Linked DNA regions of Homo sapiens. The protein of the gene in region 1 purifies or fractionates together with the protein of each later gene. This does not show direct contact. Each region holds a gene or a part of one and is shown on either strand. Other genes may lie near its edges.

The links.
Region 2: the proteins of ECHDC2 (region 1) and TOP3A purify together in Homo sapiens (affinity purification with mass spectrometry; 3 studies listed by BioGRID and IntAct, with this or other methods). This does not show direct contact.

The regions. Positions count from the first base shown.
Region 1 is NC_000001.11:52,911,741-52,915,240, reverse strand, and holds part of ECHDC2 (enoyl-CoA hydratase domain-containing protein 2, mitochondrial), read left to right. Parts: exon of another isoform or gene 1-3,450; coding exon 3,451-3,500.
Region 2 is NC_000017.11:18,312,195-18,316,341, reverse strand, and holds the start of TOP3A (DNA topoisomerase 3-alpha), read left to right. Parts: upstream 1-1,347; 5' UTR 1,348-1,563; coding exon 1,564-1,743; intron 1,744-4,147. Other genes in the region: guanine nucleotide exchange protein SMCR8, read right to left, coding at 1-552. UniProt on the Homo sapiens protein: Releases the supercoiling and torsional tension of DNA introduced during the DNA replication and transcription by transiently cleaving and rejoining one strand of the DNA duplex.

The DNA of each region.
Region 1 (3,500 bases):
GATTGGGAAACACTCCTCTGGGCACCTGCTGGATTTCAGCCCTGGGAAGACCTGAAATGTCCATCCTGATTTTTCGTAGGAGGAGAAACAGCCTAGAAGGGATGATAAGGGTGTGAGCTCCTTCCCAGAGCCCATCTCTCTTCCCCACACCCTGACTAGATGGCGGGGGTGAATTGGGGCCAGAGTGGGTGCAAGAGTCAGATTGGGGGGGCCTTATGGTCGGTATTAAGGAGTTGAACTTTATTTTGAGGAAAAGAAGGGGGAAGGGGAGGGACGTGGTCGGATTGGGGTAAGAAAGATGACTGTGACCCAAATGTGGGAACGAATGTGTGTGTGCTGGGAGGGAGCAAGACTGAGGACTCGAGGGCCAGGTGGGTGATCCGAGGGATGCAGGAAAGAGCCTATGCCAGATTAATGGCTGTGAGAAGCGGTGTGAGCTGAGAGGCCTGAGATCTCTTTAAGAGGTTGGATTAGCAGGCCTTAGTGACTGAGTGCATTTTGTAGGTGAGGTAAGAGCGAGGTGACAGGATCAACTTCTGAGTTGATAGCAAGGTCATTGGCTCATCAATGGAGCAGGACATACCAGTTGAGATATCAAGTAGGCATTTGGCTATTCAGGCCTGGGGTGCACAGGAGAGCTCTGGGCTCCTGGGCACACACGGGAGCCCTGGGTGTACAGGAGGCAGGCGTGTGTTAGCTGTGGAAGGGAGGTCCCTCCTGCCTCAGCTTATCCTGCTCTCCCTCTGCCTGAACTCCTCCAGTTCTGGAAGGCACCCTGCAGTCCCACACCTGGGCCCTCTTCTCTGCCACTCCCTCTGCCTGCAACAGGCTTCTCTCCTGGACTGCCCCCTTCCCTGCACCTTGCCAACATGCATGCACACACACAGGCACTCATGCACACGCTCACATATGCACCCATGCATGCACACTTACATGCACACATGCACTCTTACATCTTTTGCCTGGCCAATTCCTACTCTCCTGTCAGCTCTCAGCTTAAAGGCCACTGCCTCCTCTGATAACTCATTGCTGACCTTCTATACTAGGGCTCCCCTCTGCCCACTGGAGGCCCCTTACTTGTTTGTCCTTTTTCTCCAAGTTCTCCTCACAAATAGTAATTATTTAATGTCTGTCTTCCCCACTAGGCTGTAGGTTCCATGAGGACAGGCCTTGAGTCTGTCCTGGTCTCTGGAATCACGGTGTCTAGTAGAGGCCAGCACACAGCAAATATATAAATGTACAAATGAGTGAATGAAGAGAATCTGATTGGCCTTAAGGAACTTACGCACTTAAAATAATTGGGCAGAAGAGAAGCAGTGAAGGAGTGCAGAGGCATCACCTGAAAGGTAGGAGGAAGGAGAATGGGGGCCTGCCAAAGCCAAGGCAGATACGTGTCATTATGCATCTGTGTAAACCCACAGAGTGTACACCACCAAGAGCGAACCCCAGTGTACACTAGGGCCCCCGGGTGGCGACAGTGCATCAGTGTAGGTTCGTCAGTTGCAACACGTGCCTCTGGTGGGGGATGGGGATTGCGGAAGGGGCTGTGCCTGTGTAGGGCCAGGGAGTATAGGTGAACTGTATTGAATTGTATTTTCCACTCCATTTTGCTGTGACCCTAAAACTGCTCTAAGAAAATCATCTATTTATAAACAAATAAATATTCTTCTAAGAAGCCAAAGCAGAAAACGATCAAGTGGAGTGTGTTAATGTCAGCAAAGGTTTTTGCTGCCACGAGGTTGAGGCAAGGAGAGAAACGTGTCCCTTGGTTAGTGATGTGGCTATATTCATCACTTTAATGAGAATAATGTCTGCTGAGTGATGGGGCTGGAACCTAGATTGGAGAAGGTTTGAGCGAATGGAAGGTAAGAAAGTGACTAAATGAGTATAGAAAACTACCAAGAAGCTTGGCTGTTGCTGGTGAAAGAATATTACACAAGTAGGGCCAGGATTACTGTCTTGCCAAACAGGACAGAACACTAAGCCTCTGTATTTAGTTGCTAATTTATTGTGACAGAGGAGCATATTGATCTGTCCCCGTGATTGTGCAGTTAGCAAAACCCAGGCTTTGAGAAACCCTGTAGGTCAAATACCCCAGGCTCCTCCACAGATAATCTCTGAGGGAAAGACAGAGTTGTGGGGAGCATGTGGGGGTTGTACCAGGATTTAAAAGATACACGGCAATTTTAGAAATTAGCAAGTCTAAACTATGATACCTAAGGATGCACACCTGGGTGATAAAATTATAAAGAAATGGCCGGGTGTGGTGGCTCACACCTGTAATCCCAGCACTTTTAGAGGCCGAGGTGGGTGGATCACCTGAGGTCAGGAGTTCGAGACAAGCCTGACCAACATGGAGAAACCTCATCTCTACTAAAAATACAAAATTAGCCGGGCGTGGTGGCACATGCTGTAATCCCAGCTACTCCGGAGGCTGAGGCAGGAGAATCGCTTGAACCTGGGAGGCGGAGGTTGTGGTGAGCCAAGGTAACAAGAGTGAAACTCTGTCTCAAAAAAAAAAATTATAAAGAAATACACAGAGGTGATTACTATAAGTCAAAGAGTTACTTGTTCAGGGGGAAGGAGGGAGCTACGATTGAGTCAGGGCATGTGGTGGGGTTTCTGAGGTGGCCGGCACAGTTCTATTTCTTGATTTGGGTGGTGGTTATAAGGGTATTTGCCTTATCATAACTCCTCAAACTCTAGAGGAAGAAGTCTGCTGTGAAGAAAAGATTAAGGCCGCGGTGGCTCAAACCTGTAATCCCAGCACTTTGGGAGGCCGAGGCGGGCAGATTGCTCGAGCTCAGGAGTTTGAGACCAGGCTGGGCAAGATGGCAAAACCTCGTTCCTACAAAAAGCACAAAAATTAGCCAGGTGTAATGGCGCATGCTTATAGTCCCAGCTATTTTGGGGGTTGAGGGAGGAGAATTGCTTGAGCCCAGGAGGTTGAGGCTACAGTGAGCCATGTTTACACCACTGTACACCAGCCTGGGTGACAGAGTTGAGACCCTGTCTAAAAAAAAAAAAAAAACAGCAAAACTCTCCCCCGCCAAAAATAAAAAAAAAAAAGATGAATATGGAGGGAGTTGTAAAATTAAAGAAGGTACATGGGTGCATGTGTGCTTGTGTGTGTGTGTGTCTGTCTGTCTAACAACAGCAGAAGCAGGCAAGGGCTACTGTGGTAGTCACTGTTGTTCCTCTCCCCATTTTGCTTCACAGTTTACAAGTCCTTCCACTTTCTCTCTGAGGCAGAAAGAGCAAGGGTTTTTCTCTCCATTTTATGGTTGGGAAAATTGAGGCCTGCCTGAGTGTGTGACTTGTGGCAAGTCACTCTGGTCATCTAGGGCAGAGGCTCCCCAGATCCCAGGCCTCCTGCCTCCAGTCCCCAGCCCGCAGCCCAGGATTAGGCAGAGCCAGCTGCTTTCCCGTGGCTGCCCTGACTCCTTACAGGGATCACTGAGATTCTGATGAACAGACCTTCTGCCCGCAATGCCTTGGGG
Region 2 (4,147 bases), on another chromosome or scaffold:
CTTCAAGCACTCAGAAGCTCTGGAAAATTCGGCTGAAAGCTCCTGGAACTGCTGCATGATTTTATGCTGGTCTGCAGAGATATAAGCCATGCAAAACGGCCTCACGAAGCCACGGGCCTCCAGGTCGTATAGGGTAAGGTGGTGCACGTATGCAAAGGCGCCCTCCTTAGAATCTCCCAGCACCACCTTGGAGTCCTCCACGAAGTTCAGCTTGGGGTAGGCAGATCCAGGAGGATGGCCCACGAAGGAAGCCTGGTAATCCACAGACATGATACGCAGGGAGAAGTAATTGAGATCAAAAGTGCCAAAAACTTTGGTGTCATTGGGGATGGTCAGTAAGGGTTGGGGTCCCACCTGCTCAGAGAACTCGGAAATAAGAATGAAGTCCCTCGAAAACTTGGCCCCGGACAGTTTTGACCAGGGGTTAGCACCCTGACTGGCGAAGGGGAAGAGCGGCACCGAGTACTCCTCAGGCAGGGCCGGCTCATTGTAAGGCTCTTCTTCATACTCTTCCTCTTTGGTGAAGGCCACTACGTCAGGGGCGCTGATCATATTTCCAGATATATGAAGAAAACATTGAGAGGAAGTGGGAAAGAATGCGGTGTTAATCGACGCGCAGAAGGCAGGCCTCCGGAGAAGGAAGTGAAGCCCTTACGGCCTTCTTTGCGACTCCCCGAACCCGGGGTCCTAGGCTGCTTCTCACACACCCGAGGAGAAGAACTCTAGCAGCCCCCTCACAGTTGTAGCTCCTCCGGAGCTCTCTGAGGCCTCATGAACGCCAAGGCCGCAGGCCCAACTGCCCTTCTCTTCTTCGTCCGGCGAGCGCGGCCAGCACAAGAAACCTGCTGCGAAATCACCTGCACTCTCCGGAACCCACTGCGACAGCAAAAGCCCCCGCTCTGAACAAGGCTTAACGCGAGGCTACGGGACGCCGCAGGGGTCAGCCAAGCGCTGCTGCCCCTCACTGCCCGAGGGCAGAAACCGTCGCGGCTCCTAGGACGCCACAACCCGGATCCTGCTACCGCGGCGCCGCCATCTTGACATCACATGACTCCTGGTGTCCGCGCCGCGTGACCCGGAAGCGTCCTCGTAGACTTCCGAGCAGGAGATTAAAAAGTCATGAGAAAGAGGCCTTGGATGGGAGTGTCTGGCGGCTCCCCGCAAGAAGGAGTCCGATTAACCAACCACTGCCGGGAAGGAGGGGAAAGAGGGGCGGAGTGAGACGGGGGCGGCGGGAAGGTGGCAGAGGGGAACGTGCTTGGACGAGGGGCGCGGGACAGTCTGGGAGTTGTAGTTCCAGGTCGCTGTGGGGCGCGCGCCTGGCGGAAGTAGCTGGAGAAGGCGGGCGGAAGTTCCACGCCAAGATACTGGATTCGGTGCTGAGGCGGCGGCTGCGGCACGGGAAAGGCTCAGTGACTGAAGCTCCAAAGGCCAGCAGGCTGGTGGGGACGTGACCGAAGCGAGGCTCTGGTTCCCTTTCGGTGGGCGCCATTTGAGCCTCATCTCTGGCTTCCCCAGGATGCGCCGGCAGCCGGGGAGCGGCTCCGGGCGCGAGGTCTGAGGATGATCTTTCCTGTCGCCCGCTACGCGCTCCGGTGGCTGCGACGGCCCGAAGACCGTGCCTTTTCCCGCGCCGCCATGGAGATGGCCCTCCGAGGCGTGCGGAAAGTCCTCTGTGTGGCCGAAAAAAACGACGCGGCCAAGGGGATCGCCGACCTGCTGTCAAACGGTCGCATGAGGCGGGTAAGAAAGCGCGTTCCGATCAGCTGCGTGCCTTAAGGGAGGCCCACCGAGCGGGACAGCGTGGTGGGCGCCAAGAATCGAGATGAAGGCGATTATCTCCCATTTCTCAGGCCTCACTGCCCCTCGTCTGGATTATTGCAGTGGCCTCCTGTCTGCTCTCGGACTGGAGTGCATTTTAAAACGTAGTTGATACATCTCACTCATTTGCGTGGAAACCTTTTGTTTTGCTTGCGCTTAGCAGGTTCCCAAACTTGTCTGATTCTCGGAATCGCCTCGGGCGCTGGCTGCCCTTCGGGTCTTGTGTGAGGCTGGGGAAGTGTGTATTTTACTGTTTTTCCCTAGAGATTCAGAAATTCATTTGGGAACTACTGACCAGATTCCCTTAACTTGGCATTCAAGCCCTGCCCGATCGTTCCCCAGCCAACCTAGCCCTCCCCATCCTGTGCCACAGCCACTGCATTCTACAGCCCTTGTGACTTTCCAGCCTCACAGTGCACACTTACAGCAACACGGTAAGGTTTGGGGATTAGATTTGAAGTCAGCCCTGTTCCTACCCGAATGAACTGATTCTGAGAGAGGTAAGTGGTAAGAATGTGTTCTACACACACGGGAGGCACAAACGCAAGGGAGGATAAGAAAAAGTTTCATAAAGGAGGTGCCACGGGAGACATAAAGAGCTGTCCAGGAAAATATCTCAGATAACAAAAGTAGATCCTGAAATGGTTTTCTGGAGAACTTTTCTAAGAGCATGGGTGGAAGTTCCCTGCTCATTTTTCTTTAGTTCCCAGGGTCCTAAGACCTGTTTCCAGATCAAGGATAGTGGGAGTGGAGCCAGGGTTGTGTGAATGCTGGCTGACAGCTTTACCTGTTTCCAGTGCTAGAAGTCCTGGTGACCAGCCCCAAGGTTTGTCTACTTCTAGACAATGAAGTAGACATTGAAAAATGGTTCTCCTACGCCTAACTTCTTATCCTTCAAGGCTCTGCTGAATTCATTCTCTCTCTCTCCCTTTTTTTTTTTTTTTTTTAAGCAATCCAGAGGTCTTGTATTTATCTATTTTTACCCTATCATACCATGAATCCATAGGGAATAGGTTCCAGCGGCTCAGGCTCTTTTCCATTGGTTCTCACAAAGTGTACTTCCCTCAATGGAACAGGCTGGCACTTCAGGTGAACCCTTTCTCTTTGACTTGCTTCTTTTTTGATCATTTTCCTTCACACATTTCAGGAAAGATCTTGGTTCTTAGAGTGCTTAATATGCTCAATAGAAACATTAATTCTTTGGGCAAGAATCTAGCCCTTGTTCGCAGCAGTGCCAACAGCATGCTGGGTAACATAGACTTTTCCAGTTCTGCCATGTAACATTTGTGGGTCATTCCCTTTTGAACAGTATGCATTCTCACGAAGTCCTCAATATCACCTTCATTGTAGATTCTGGTGTCTGTGGCCAGAGAAACTCCATATTTTTGTTTTGTTTTGTTTGTTTGTTTTGAGATGGAGCTTTGCTCTTGTTGCCCAGCCTGGAGTGCAATGGTGTGATCTCAGCTCACTGCAACCTCCGCCTCCCGGGTTCAAGCGATTCTCCTGCCTCAGCCTCCCTAGTAGCTGGGATTACAGGTGCCTGTCACCATGCCCAGCTAATTTTTTGTATTTTTAGTAGTTTCACTGTGTTGGCCAGGATGGTCTTGAACTCCTGACTTCAGGTGAGCCACCCGCCTTAGCCTCCCAAAGTGTTAGGGTTACAGGCGTGAGCCACCGTGCCCAGCTCGAACTCCATGTTTTCTATAAGGCCAGGAGAACATACATCAGATGCCTCGTCCTCTTTTCCTTTGTGTTCGTCATTTTGGCAAATTACTCCAAGATGGCAGTTCCAGCCAAAAGGAAAGACTTTTCTTGGAAAGAGAATTTTTATTTTTATGTACAGAAAACACAACAGTGTGTACTTAACCCAGTTTAGTGGCAAATTCTTTAGCCTTTGCCTTTTCTAGGTTGGTAATGCAAGCTACAGATTTTGGACCCAGGGCATTGCCTCCCCAGTGACAGCAGATCTCATATGTCGTTGTAATTTGTCCCACCAGCTTAGCCAGAGCTCCTTTGTCTACCAGAAAGTTAACCTTTGTGAAGGTGACAGTGGTGCAGGTCTTCCTGTGGAATTTGACACCACAGTCTTGACGGTGCAGTAGAGAATCCCCATCTTAGGACACAGCACAGGCAGGAAGACAACCAGCTCAATGGGATCCACCACCAGCTGACCCTTCATGCTCTCTACCAAGTTGGTGACGGTGTCAACCCCTGCTCGAAGTGTAGGTGGTCTCTTAGTAGCGACATCCCCTTTGCTGGAAGCTTTCTTCTCAGCCTGGGCCAACGGTTTCGATCTCATCCCTTGCTCTGTCTCTTGTCTGTACTG